3 linked regions of the Homo sapiens genome follow. The protein of the gene in region 3 purifies or fractionates together with the protein of the main gene of each other region. This does not show direct contact. Each region holds a gene or a part of one and is shown on either strand. Other genes may lie near its edges.

Region 1 (3,653 bases), about 73 Mb from region 3:
AAGCAATTCTCCTGCCTCAGCCTCCAGAGTAGCTGGAATTATAGGCATGTGCTACCACACCCGGCTAATTTTTGTATTTTTAGTAGAAATGGGGTTTTGCCATGTTGGCCAGGCTGGTCTCAAACTTCTGGCCTCGAGTGATCCGTCCGCCTCAGCCTCCCATAGTGCTGGGATTACAGCTGTGAGCCATGGTGCCCGGCACTTGAGCAGAGCTCTTGACACAAACTGAGTGCTCACAAATCAGTCTAATACAGCAGGGATAATGAGAGGTCTAGCCTCACTGGCCTATGTGAACAGCCAAGCCTCATGAAAGCCTGGTGGTGAAGAGCCTGGACTCTAGAGCCAGGTTTGCCTGGGTTCAAATCTCAACTCTGCCACCTGTAGCTGTGTCTTTGGACAGGTCACTGAACCTCTCTGAGCCTTAGCTTCTTCATATGTAAAATGGGAATCATAGCCCCCATCTTCACCAGGCTACCGGGATTACCTGAGGTTATGAAGGGGACAGGACAAGGAGGCCCTGCGCCCGTGTGTGCTGTTAAGCTGCACGGCACTGCTGTTACATGTGACCCTGAGACCTGCTAACTCTGGGGGTGAGATGGGCCTGGCGCAGAGGGAGTCCTTAAAACGTGCCAATGATTCACTCGGGAGCCTGGCATGGTGCCGGGACACAAACCCTGCTTGGGAAGTGACGGTGGTGCATGCTGTCACCTTCATGGGCACCGCGGGCTGCTACAGACTGGGTGGTGGGGCCCAGAGAGGTGAGCAGGGACTTCCTGCATCCCAGAAGGTGCAGAGCCCCCCATGCCAGCAGGATATAGGGATGGTAGACCCAGAGCGTGTCGTTAAGCCAGTCCATGCCATTGTCCTGCTGTAGCAGTCGCTCGTAGGTGACACACAGGAAGCGGATGTCCTCCTCATCGATGCCACCGTTCCAGATGTCATACAGGATGGTCATCTCCTCAAACTCCGAGCGGGGCCGGAAGAGGGGCTGGGGTGGCGAGAGTTCGGGCGAGCCCGCAGGTGGCACCAGGTCCTCATGGCGCTTCTTAGGTGGCCGGCGCCACGGCCCCCGGCTCTTGGCCAACTCCATGTATTCCTCAGTGACCTCATCGCGCCCACGGGGGCCCGGAGGAATGGCCTCGGAGGGCCACTGGTTGTCTAGCTCCTTAAAGGGCAGCTTGGTGGGCTCTACAGGTGGGGGAGGTGGGGGTGGGGGTGGCTGGGGGGGAAGGGGTGGTGGAGGGGCTGGGATCCCCGCGTTCCGGAAGTCCAGGGTCACCGTCCGGGGGTCATGGGTGCTGGGGAAGACGGGGGTCTGTGGCTGGCCCGGCAGGAGCAGGAGTTCCCTTCCAAGGGCGGCCCCTGCTGGTGGTCGGACCAAGGGCCCATCCAAGGAGAGCATAGATGGTGGGGATCGCCGGGGCCGGCCCGGCTTCCTCTTCATTGGGGGAGGGCAAGAGGCCAGGGGGGCGGGCAGCAGGGGTGGCAGCGGGGTGGGCGCACGAGCCTGGGCCCGCAAGACGGCGGGCAATGCCAAGGGCAAGGGCAGGGGAAGGGGCAGAGGGAGGGGCAGGCCCGTCTCCAGGAGCACCGGGGAGGCCAGGGGCCCGGAGCGTTCATCGCGTCGGCCAGTGGGGAGTGGGCAGACGGGCAGGAGCAAGGGCCCGCTGGGCTCGGAGAAGGTGGGTGTGAAGCTGAAGTCCCGGCCAGGTGTCCGAGGGAGGCCCCCACTGCTCAAGCTAGGGGACGGGGCTGGGTAGGAGAAGGGGCTGCCGGGCACTTGCGGAGAGCTCAGGGACAGGCCACTGCTGCCCCCTGATAGCGGGGGCTCCCCGCCTGGTGTGGCTGGCACCGTCTCTGTGCTCTGCGACTTGGCCAGGCTGCCACAGAGGCCTGGAGTATGCGGGGGGTGGTCCTCGGCAAGGGGCTCCGGAGGGACAGATGGGTGTGAGGCATCTGTGGTCTCAGGCTCCGGCGGTGGGCTGGGTGGCCGGGGTGGTCGTGGGGGCGGCAATGGTGGTTGCAGCGGCAAGGGGAGCATCATAGGGGGCTCCGGCTCCACTTCCAGGTCATGTTCTGCAGAGAGGTGAGCGAACACGAGACATTTACTATTCAATCCAAACGTCTCTCAGTGCCTTATTTTGTGCTCCATACCTGGCAGGCTCACAGCCCTGAGTCTGAGCACGGGACCTGTCCTTCTCCAGCTAAACCCCTCAAGGACTCCTCAGCGCCCAACCCAGTGTCAGGCACACAGTATGTGCTTTATCAATGTTGCTAGGCTAAATCACAGATGCAGGAGACATGTATTCCAGCCTTTCATACTACGTCTTCAGAACAAAGTCCCTGTGGCCCAAGAAAATCTGCTCTATGACTGAATAAAATTCAACAAGTCTCTTTTCTGCAGGACTTGTCGGAGCCTTCAAGGATTTTTTTCCTAGCACTTATCTCCACTGTCACAGGATACACTTCTTAATTTTTTAATGAATTTACTTATTTTTTTATTTTTGAGACGGGTGGAATGCAGTGGCATGATCACGGTCACTGCAGCCTAGACCGCCAGGGCTCAAGGGATCCTCCTGCCTAAGGCTCCTGAGTAGGTGGGACTACAGGAATGTGCCACCACGCCCAGCTAATCTTTAAATGTTTTGTAGAGATGGGCTCTATGTTGCCTAGGCTGGTCTTGAACTCCTGGCCTCAAGTGATCCGCCAGCCTTGGCCTCCCAAAGTGCTGGAATTACAGATGTGAGCCACCATGCCCGACCACAGAATACATCTTTTTCATTTTCTATTTTTACATTATTTTATTTTTATTTTTTCGAGACAGTCTCACTCTGTCACCCAGGCTGGAGTGCAATGGCACAATCTCAGCTCACTGCAACCTCCTCCTCCCAGGTTCAAGCAATTCTCCTTCCTCAGCCTCCCAAGCCGCTGGGATTACAGGCACGTGCCACCACGCCCTGCTAATTTTTTGTACTTTTAGTAGAGATGGGGTTTCGTCATGCTGGCCTGGCTGGTCTCAAACTCCTGACCTCAGTTGATCTGCCTACCTCGGCTTCCCACAGTGCTGGGATTACAGGTGTGAGCCACCGCGCCCGGCACATTTCTTTTTCTTTCTTTTTTTTTTTTTTTAAGACAGTCTCACTCTATCGCCCAGGCTGGAGTGCAGTGTGGCACGATCTCGGCTCGCTGCAACCTCTGCCACCCGGGTTCAAGCAATTCTCCTGCCTCAGCCTCCCAAGTAGCTGGGATTACAGGAGCCTGCCACCTGTTTTTCATTTTCTAATTGATCTGTTGTCATCTGTTCCCCTGCTCCGTGGGAGCAGATATTTTTGTCTGTTTGGTCCACTGTTGCATTGCTACTGCCTAAAATAATAGCAGGGACACAATAGAGGCTTAGTATTGAGTCAATGTTCAAAGACTGTGGTTAATGGTGGAATAAACAAAACAAAATACATTACATTAAACAAAACACAGTCGTCCCTCAATACACACAGAGAATTGGTTCTAACACTCCCTGGTATACCTAAATCTGCACATACTCAAAGCTTGTAGTCTGCCTTGCAGAACCCACGTATAGGCGATCGCCCTCCATATACAGTGGGTTTCGCATCCCACCGGTCTTTTCCGTCCATATTTGGTTGAAAACTGCATGT
Region 2 (3,653 bases), on a different chromosome or scaffold from region 3:
GCAGCCAAGCAATTTCACTTGAAGAGCATTCTTAACCTCACGACATTTGGACTATCAATCCCTCCCCCCACCGTTTTTTACAGACTATTTGCAAAGTTATTAAAAGTTGCAAAACATTATTTATCTCCTATAGGACAATCTTGATCAGTTATGCATATTCCTTCTCTCTCCAGCAAAGCAAACGGATTTCACACACCAAAGTCAGAATTCAGTGATGGGTCTGATTACACAAATACCTAAGTTCCATGTGTTCTTGGGGAAAGGGCAGCCCCCTCCCTCAAAAAGCCCTGTCACCCTGTGAGGAGGCCTATAGAAAAGTAAGGAGCTGGATCAATGCTGATTTGGACGCCACCCTTAGTTACCAACGTCTTTAACAGCTAAACCTCTTATGTAGCTTTCAAAACAGTTTGCTGTCCGACAACAATGGACTCTGTTCTTTAATTATAGCAAGTGACCCCTCTGCCCTTTTATTTCACAGTAGATACACTACACTCTAGGCAGAATTCATATGGGACACTATATTTGAAAAAAAAAAAAAGCATAATGTCCACAAAACTCATTAATCAAAATATGTTCTTAAACTGCTCACACTCACTTAGAAAATGTGCCAGAATTCCCTGGTGAAGTATAAAAAGGACTCTACAAAAGAATAAAATAAAATGAATGATATCCTTTATGGACAGGTCCATTTGTAGACACCACCTTTATGACCAGGGCCATCTTAATGAAAGCAATATGATATTACAGAAATAATTCTCTTCCCTGAATAGGTATTGAGACACAACTATATGACCTCTTGTGCCTTTCACTTCTGTTTAAGTATCAGCCACTTTTAGGATTTTTGAGTTTTTGTATATATTTTTGAATTTTCCAGAAATCAAATAAACCCATCAACTTTACATATAAACTGTTTATTTATAAAGCCCAGCTGAATGCCTCCCTATCTGATAAGTCAAAACTGTAAGATGGCTAGGAGGATACATAAAGAAGAGCTTCAATACAAGGCTATTATGCTTCACAAGAAAGGAGGGGAAGGTGGAGAGGCAGGTTTTAACAACCAAAAGCCAACCCATCAAATCTACTTATTCAGACATGTCACTGGTGGCTTAACCACAAAATGGGCTACAGAAATATAGCTCAAACATCTTAGAATTATGGCATGTTTTGATTTTGTTCACGTATTAAGGGAGTGGCGACTTTTACAACATACTTGTGGTTTCCACATAAAGGAGTAGAACACTCATTGATTTAATTAGGTTTCATAAGGTCCAATTTATCATGTTTTACATGACTTTGTGTAGTGAAGAAACAGAATAAACAGACCAAAAATAGACATTTAAGCATGCATGCTATGAAAATTAACCGGTGACAGCAAGTCTTATGAATCTCCTGTGAACCTTCCAACCAGAAAAAAAAAAAAAAAAAAAAAAAAATGCACACACACATACACTCCCCCCTTTGGTTTTCACATGTGGCCCCTCACGAGCCACATCTGATTGCTGAAAATTAATAATCTTCACTCTCCAGGCACTTACTCTTCACAAACTCAGATAATCAAGCCAGGCTGAAGGAAATTAAAACACTGTATAAAATGTCAAAAAACCTCAGTGTTGAAATATTTTTTCAGGTGAAGCTTCTGGTCCTACTAAATCTTTACTTTCTAAATAGGTATTCTCACATCAGTAGGAAGCATTTTCTAAATTGATGCCTAATTTGATGCAACCACTAGTTAGTGGAATTAGAGTTACTTTCCTGGGTGGCATTCATGCAAGGGAGTGCCATTTCTGTGTGCCAAGGATGAAAGCATTCTTAAGAGAAGTCATTCTCAGGGTGAAGTGGGGGTGGGGAGGAAAGCCTTAAGGAATAATGTTTGAGATCCTGAGCCAACGCCCAACTTGACAGAGAATGGCCAACACTACAGGATCCAAGCCCCTGGATCCAAGCCTTTGAGGGGCCCCTGTGCCAACTCCAGTGGCTAAGATTGGTGGCACAGCTTCCTCTGGTATAGGATCAGAAGTGAATCTAAATTGCAGTGTGCTTTCTTCCCTCCCCCACCCCAGATCCACCATGACTTGTTTGCTCTTCATTTATGTAATTCATATTTATCACATTTATACTGCTCTAACTGAAGATGAGTTGCATGTATATGAATAATTTAATTCTTCCATTCTTCACCCAGTTTCCTCTGTGACTGGAAAGTGAAAAGAACACACAAAAACTGGAGAAACGACACCACGCTCTAATCTCAGTTGCCATGACAGCAGCCTTTTAGATACTGAAATGTTCCGATTGCCAGCTAAACAAAATTGTTGAATGTGAACATTTGGCTGGAAGATTAAAAGGCTAAGGGGAATGCAAAAGGGCAGTACCTCCCACATTCCAAGCAGCCAGTGAATCCAATCAAATGGCTCTGACTCCTTAACCACAGCCATTGTGAGCACTGGATTAGGGCAATTCATCTAGATAGTTAAAGCAGATTAGAACTGCAATTTGAAGACTATTGGCAACAAAAGTAAATGCCCTACTGTACTAAGTAATAAGAAGATTTCAGAACACCTTTTAGCGGAAATAATGTGAAACTACACATTTAAATATAAGACTCAAAACCCGGAATTTTCAAAAATTCATTTATATTCATTAATGTACCTGACCAAGAGGATATGAATTTATAAGCGTTTGGAGGCATTTTGCAAATTTGGCATTATCTACACCTTAATGTGCCTCTATCAACTTTTAAAAATCAAAACTTTACTCCTATACTCCAACTTAAATCCTGAACACAAAAACAAGAATATAAAAGTTTAAGTAGCAGTGAACCATTTTACACAGAAATAATTCTCCAAAGACATATTATCACCACTTACAATCCCAATCGCCAACTATAGCAAAAAAAAATCAAAATTATTTAATAAGGATGTTCCCCAACAACCATGCCACAACCCACATGACAGAAAGCTTGCTTCTGCAAGGCACAACCTGTAGAATTAATATGAAGATTAATTTCATAGAAATATCACACACACACCCCTAACTCCTTCCCAACCTGCCTAGTGGACAGAACACCTTCTGTTCCCAAACATTAGTCAATGTGGTCTATGACTAAGCAGCAAAACATGGTGTGGGTGTCGGGGCAGGCAGTTCTTCCAAGGCAGTGTCTAACTATAGACTTGTACAAAGAAGGGGAGAAGGGTCCAAATGGTCTAAATCAACCATCCACACCGTTTAAATGCAGCACATAATTCTATATTCCAATTCACTCAACCGTCTACATCCCCTTTGGCTACATTTTCACATTTCACGAGTATCAGTCCAGCAAGTCTGTTTTATTCTTCTTAGCAGCCGTCCAGCTCCCCAGTCAGGTATCCAAGTGATAACACTCTTAAATCTCTAGCTAAGAACTGGGTGAGGGAACAGGGGTAGAGTGCTAACAGCCACCAAAACCATCGAGTTTTTCTGCAGTTATGAAACCAATGACCCAACACATCAAGCTTGGGGTTTCATTCAGGACCAATAACAAGAACTCATTCAAGGATATCCTTTCACAGTACTATTTTGGAGACAGTAAGAAAAAATAAAAGGGATGAGGTCTGTAGAATGTAAATTCGAATCCTCGACATTCCTCTCCAGGGAGGGAACTTGAACCTTGCACCTAA
Region 3 (3,653 bases):
GAAGATGAATGCTAATAATAAAACCTTGACTTTAATTTGTGCATACCAGAGCAAGGGGAATTAGTACATAATTTTAATGTCCGGCTCTGAAAGTCTGGCGCATTCATCTTTAAGTAAATGAGCCATCTGTTACATGAACCAGCCGGCATTCATTTAGTAGGTTGCTTACTGCCCCCACCAAATGATTTCTAATAACTTCTAATAGTAATGGCTTCAGATAGGTACATTTCAGTTCCAGACCATTGGTTAAATTCTCTTCTGACAGGGTGCAGTGAAATTAATTTTTTAAAACAATTTTTATTTTTCTCATTTTCAGTATTCAAAAAGTGAATTTCATTTTAACAAACTCTATATTAGGTTAAGGCCTCAGTATTTTAGGTTACAGACAGGTTAATGTAGGCATAACCCATTTTTCTGAAGATGTAACTTAGTCACCTTGTGAAACCGTTATGTATTTATTTTTGAGACGGACTCTCACTCTGTTGCCAGGCTGGAGCGCAGTGGCACGATCTCAGCTCACTGCAACCTTTGCCTCCTGGGTTCAAGCAATTCTTCTGCCTCAGCCTCCCTAGTAGCTGGGACTACAGGCGCACGCCGCTGTGCCCGGCTAATTTCTTTCTTTTTTTTGTATTTTAGTAGAGATGGGGTTTCACCATGTTGCCCAGGCTGGTCTCAAACTCCAGAGCTCAGGCAGTATGCCCACCTCGGTCTCCCAAAGTGCTAGAATTACAGGCTTGAGCCACCGTGCCCAGCCAACTGTTACATATTTTTAAAGCCTTTTCACATTTTCTGATAGTCTGTTAGCTTTTGTCATTTCTGTAATTTGCTGGTTTTATTTTATTTTATTTATTTTTAAATTTATTTTTTATTAATTTTATTTTATTATATATTATTTTTATTTATTTATTTAATTTGTTTATTTTATTTAATTTTTTATTTTTGGAGACAGAGTCTCGTTCTGTCGCCCAGGCTGGAGCGCGGTGGTGCGATCTCGGCTCACTGTAATCTCTGCCTACCAGGTTCAAGTGATTCTCCTGCCTCAGCCTCCCGAGTAGCTGGGATTATAGGTGCTTGCCACCATACCTGGCTAATTTTTGTATTTTTAGTAGAGAGGCTGTTTTGCCATGTTGGCCAGGCTGGTCTCGAACTCCTGACCTCAAGTGATCCACCCACCTTGGCCTTGTGCACCACACCTGGCCCTTTGCTGGTTTTATTAACCATGTTTTGATTTTTCTTAATTTCTTTTCACTTTTACTTCAGAATATAGTTAAGTACCTCTTATACACAGGTAATATTGGCTTTTGTTTATATTTATGAAGAAATTTTGGCAGAAATTACTTGCTCTCAGTCCTAAAGTTAATTTTGTATATTCTGTGTATTTCAGTGCCTTAACAGCTAGTTTTTAAAAATAAAGCAGAGGCTGGCCACAGTGGCTCACGCCTGTAATCCTAGCACTTTGGGAGGCCGAGTCGGGTGGAATGCCTGAACTCAGGAGTTTGAGACCAGCCTGGGAAACATGGTGAAACCCCATCTCTACTAAAAATACAAAAAATAAAAAAATTAGCCAGGTGTGGTGGCACACGCCTGCAATCTCAACTACTGTGGAGGCTGAGGCACGAGAATTGCTTGAACCCGGGAGGCGGAGGTTGCAGTGAGCCAACATTGTGCCACTTCAGTGCAGCCTGGGAAACAGAGCAAGACTCTGTCTTAAAAACGAAAAAGTAATAAAGCATAATTTTTTGACTTAAAATTAGTATAATTTATGTGTTTTGCCTTTTCAATAAAATTTTTACTCAGTATGAAACTTAAGGTATATAGCTTGTTCTTTGTATTTATGTAATGATCAGACGGTGAGTGAAACAAAATTTTTAAAATTCAAAGTTATTCACTTATTTATTTATTTATTTATTTATTTTTGAGACATGGTCTTGCTCTGTCACCCAGGTTGGAGTGCAGTGGCGCCATCTCAGCTCACTGCAGCCTCCCACTCCCAGGCTGAAGTGATCCTTTCACCTCAGTCTCCTGAGTATCTGGGACTACAGGTATACACCACCGTGCCCAGCTAACTTTTGTATTTTTTGTATTGACAGGGTTTTATCATGTTACAGCCCAGGCTGGTCTTGAACTCCCAGGCTCAAGCAATCTGCCTGCCTCGGCCTCCCAAAGTGCTGGGATTACAGGCGTGAGCTATCACACCTGGCCTCATCTCTTAATTTTGATTGCATAAATCAGAGCCAGAGAACAGTCTACCATATATTAATCACTAGCAAAACTTTTAGAAGTTCTTTTTTTTTTTTTTTCTTTTTTTGAGATGGAGTCTTGCTCTGTCACCCAGGCTGGAATGCAGTGGCACGATCTCAGCTCACTGCAACCTCTGCCTCCCGGGTTCAAGCAATTCTCCTGCCCCAGCCTCCCGAGTAGCTGGGATTATAGGCGCCCACCACCATACCTGGTTGATTTTCGTATTTTCAGTAGAGACGGGGTTTCGCCATGTTGGCCAGGCTGGTCTTGAACACCTGACCTCAGGTGATTCGCCTGCCTTGGCCTCCCAAGGTGCTAGGATTACAGGTGTGAGCCACCGTGCCTGGCCAGATATTCTTTTAGTTTATAATTGGCAGCAAAGCTTAATCAAGTTGATATGGATCCGTGCCAGATCTTTGGCAATTAAGGGTTAACCTAGGGTACTGAATTTTGAGAATATTGTCAAGAAAATTAGCTGAGGACAGGGTATAGCCCATTTTGACTAGTTATTTGAGGGTCCATATGAGCTCCAATATAGGCCTATATTTTTTAAACAATTACAAATTTTGGCTGGGCACAGTGGCTCATGCCTGTAATCCCACCACTTTGGGAGGCCGAGGCTGGAAGATCGATCTGAGGTCAGGAGTTAAGACCAGCCTGACCAACATGGAGAAACCCCATCTCTACTGAAAATATAAAAATTAGCTGGGCGTGGTGGTAGGTGCCTGTAATGCCAGCTACTTGGGAGGCTGAGACAGGAGAATCACTTGAACCTGGGAAGCGGAGGTTGCAGTGAGCCAAGGTTGTGCCACTGCACTCCAGCCTGGGTGACAGAGCAAGACTGTCTCAAAAAAAAAAATTATTTGATGTTGGTATCTTTAGTGCTTTAATTAAAATATATTGCCAGGTGCAGTAGCTTATGCGTTTAATTCCAGCACTTTGTGAGGCTGAGGCGGGAGCATCGCTTAAACCCAGGGGTTCAAGCCTGGACAACATGGTGAAATCCCATCTCTACAAAAAATACAAAAATTAACCAAGTGGGGTGGTGCACACCTGTAGTCCCAGCTACTCGGCAGGCTGACGTGGGAGGATCGCTTGAGCCCAGGAAGCAAAGGTTATAGTGAGCTGTGATTGATTGCACCACTGCACTCCATCCTGGGTGACAAGAGTGAGACCTTATCTCAAAAAAAAAATATATATATATATATATATATATACGTATATATATATATACATGTATATATATATACGTATATATACATGTATATATGTATATGTGAAAGATACATGTTAATTGAACACTTTAAAGCTGTCTTGACTGGTAAGTGATGATTTCATATCAAAACATTAAGAATGTAGATTAATAAAAGTTTAAAGTGTTCCGCATGTTCACTTTCTTTTCAACATAATGC

Evidence for each region.
Region 1: the proteins of KANSL2 (region 3) and SETD1B purify together in Homo sapiens (affinity purification with mass spectrometry, with the first as the bait; one large-scale study listed by BioGRID). This does not show direct contact.
Region 2: the proteins of KANSL2 (region 3) and ZNF608 purify together in Homo sapiens (affinity purification with mass spectrometry, with the first as the bait; one large-scale study listed by BioGRID). This does not show direct contact.

The regions. Positions count from the first base shown.
Region 1 is NC_000012.12:121,820,913-121,824,565, reverse strand, and holds part of SETD1B (histone-lysine N-methyltransferase SETD1B), read right to left. Parts: intron 2,077-3,653; coding exon 817-2,076; intron 1-816. UniProt on the Homo sapiens protein: Histone methyltransferase that catalyzes methyl group transfer from S-adenosyl-L-methionine to the epsilon-amino group of 'Lys-4' of histone H3 (H3K4) via a non-processive mechanism.
Region 2 is NC_000005.10:124,739,987-124,743,639, forward strand, and holds part of ZNF608 (zinc finger protein 608), read right to left. Parts: intron 1,407-3,653; exon of another isoform or gene 1-1,406. UniProt on the Homo sapiens protein: Transcription factor, which represses ZNF609 transcription.
Region 3 is NC_000012.12:48,672,215-48,675,867, reverse strand, and holds part of KANSL2 (KAT8 regulatory NSL complex subunit 2), read left to right. Parts: intron 1-3,653. UniProt on the Homo sapiens protein: Non-catalytic component of the NSL histone acetyltransferase complex, a multiprotein complex that mediates histone H4 acetylation at 'Lys-5'- and 'Lys-8' (H4K5ac and H4K8ac) at transcription start sites and promotes transcription initiation.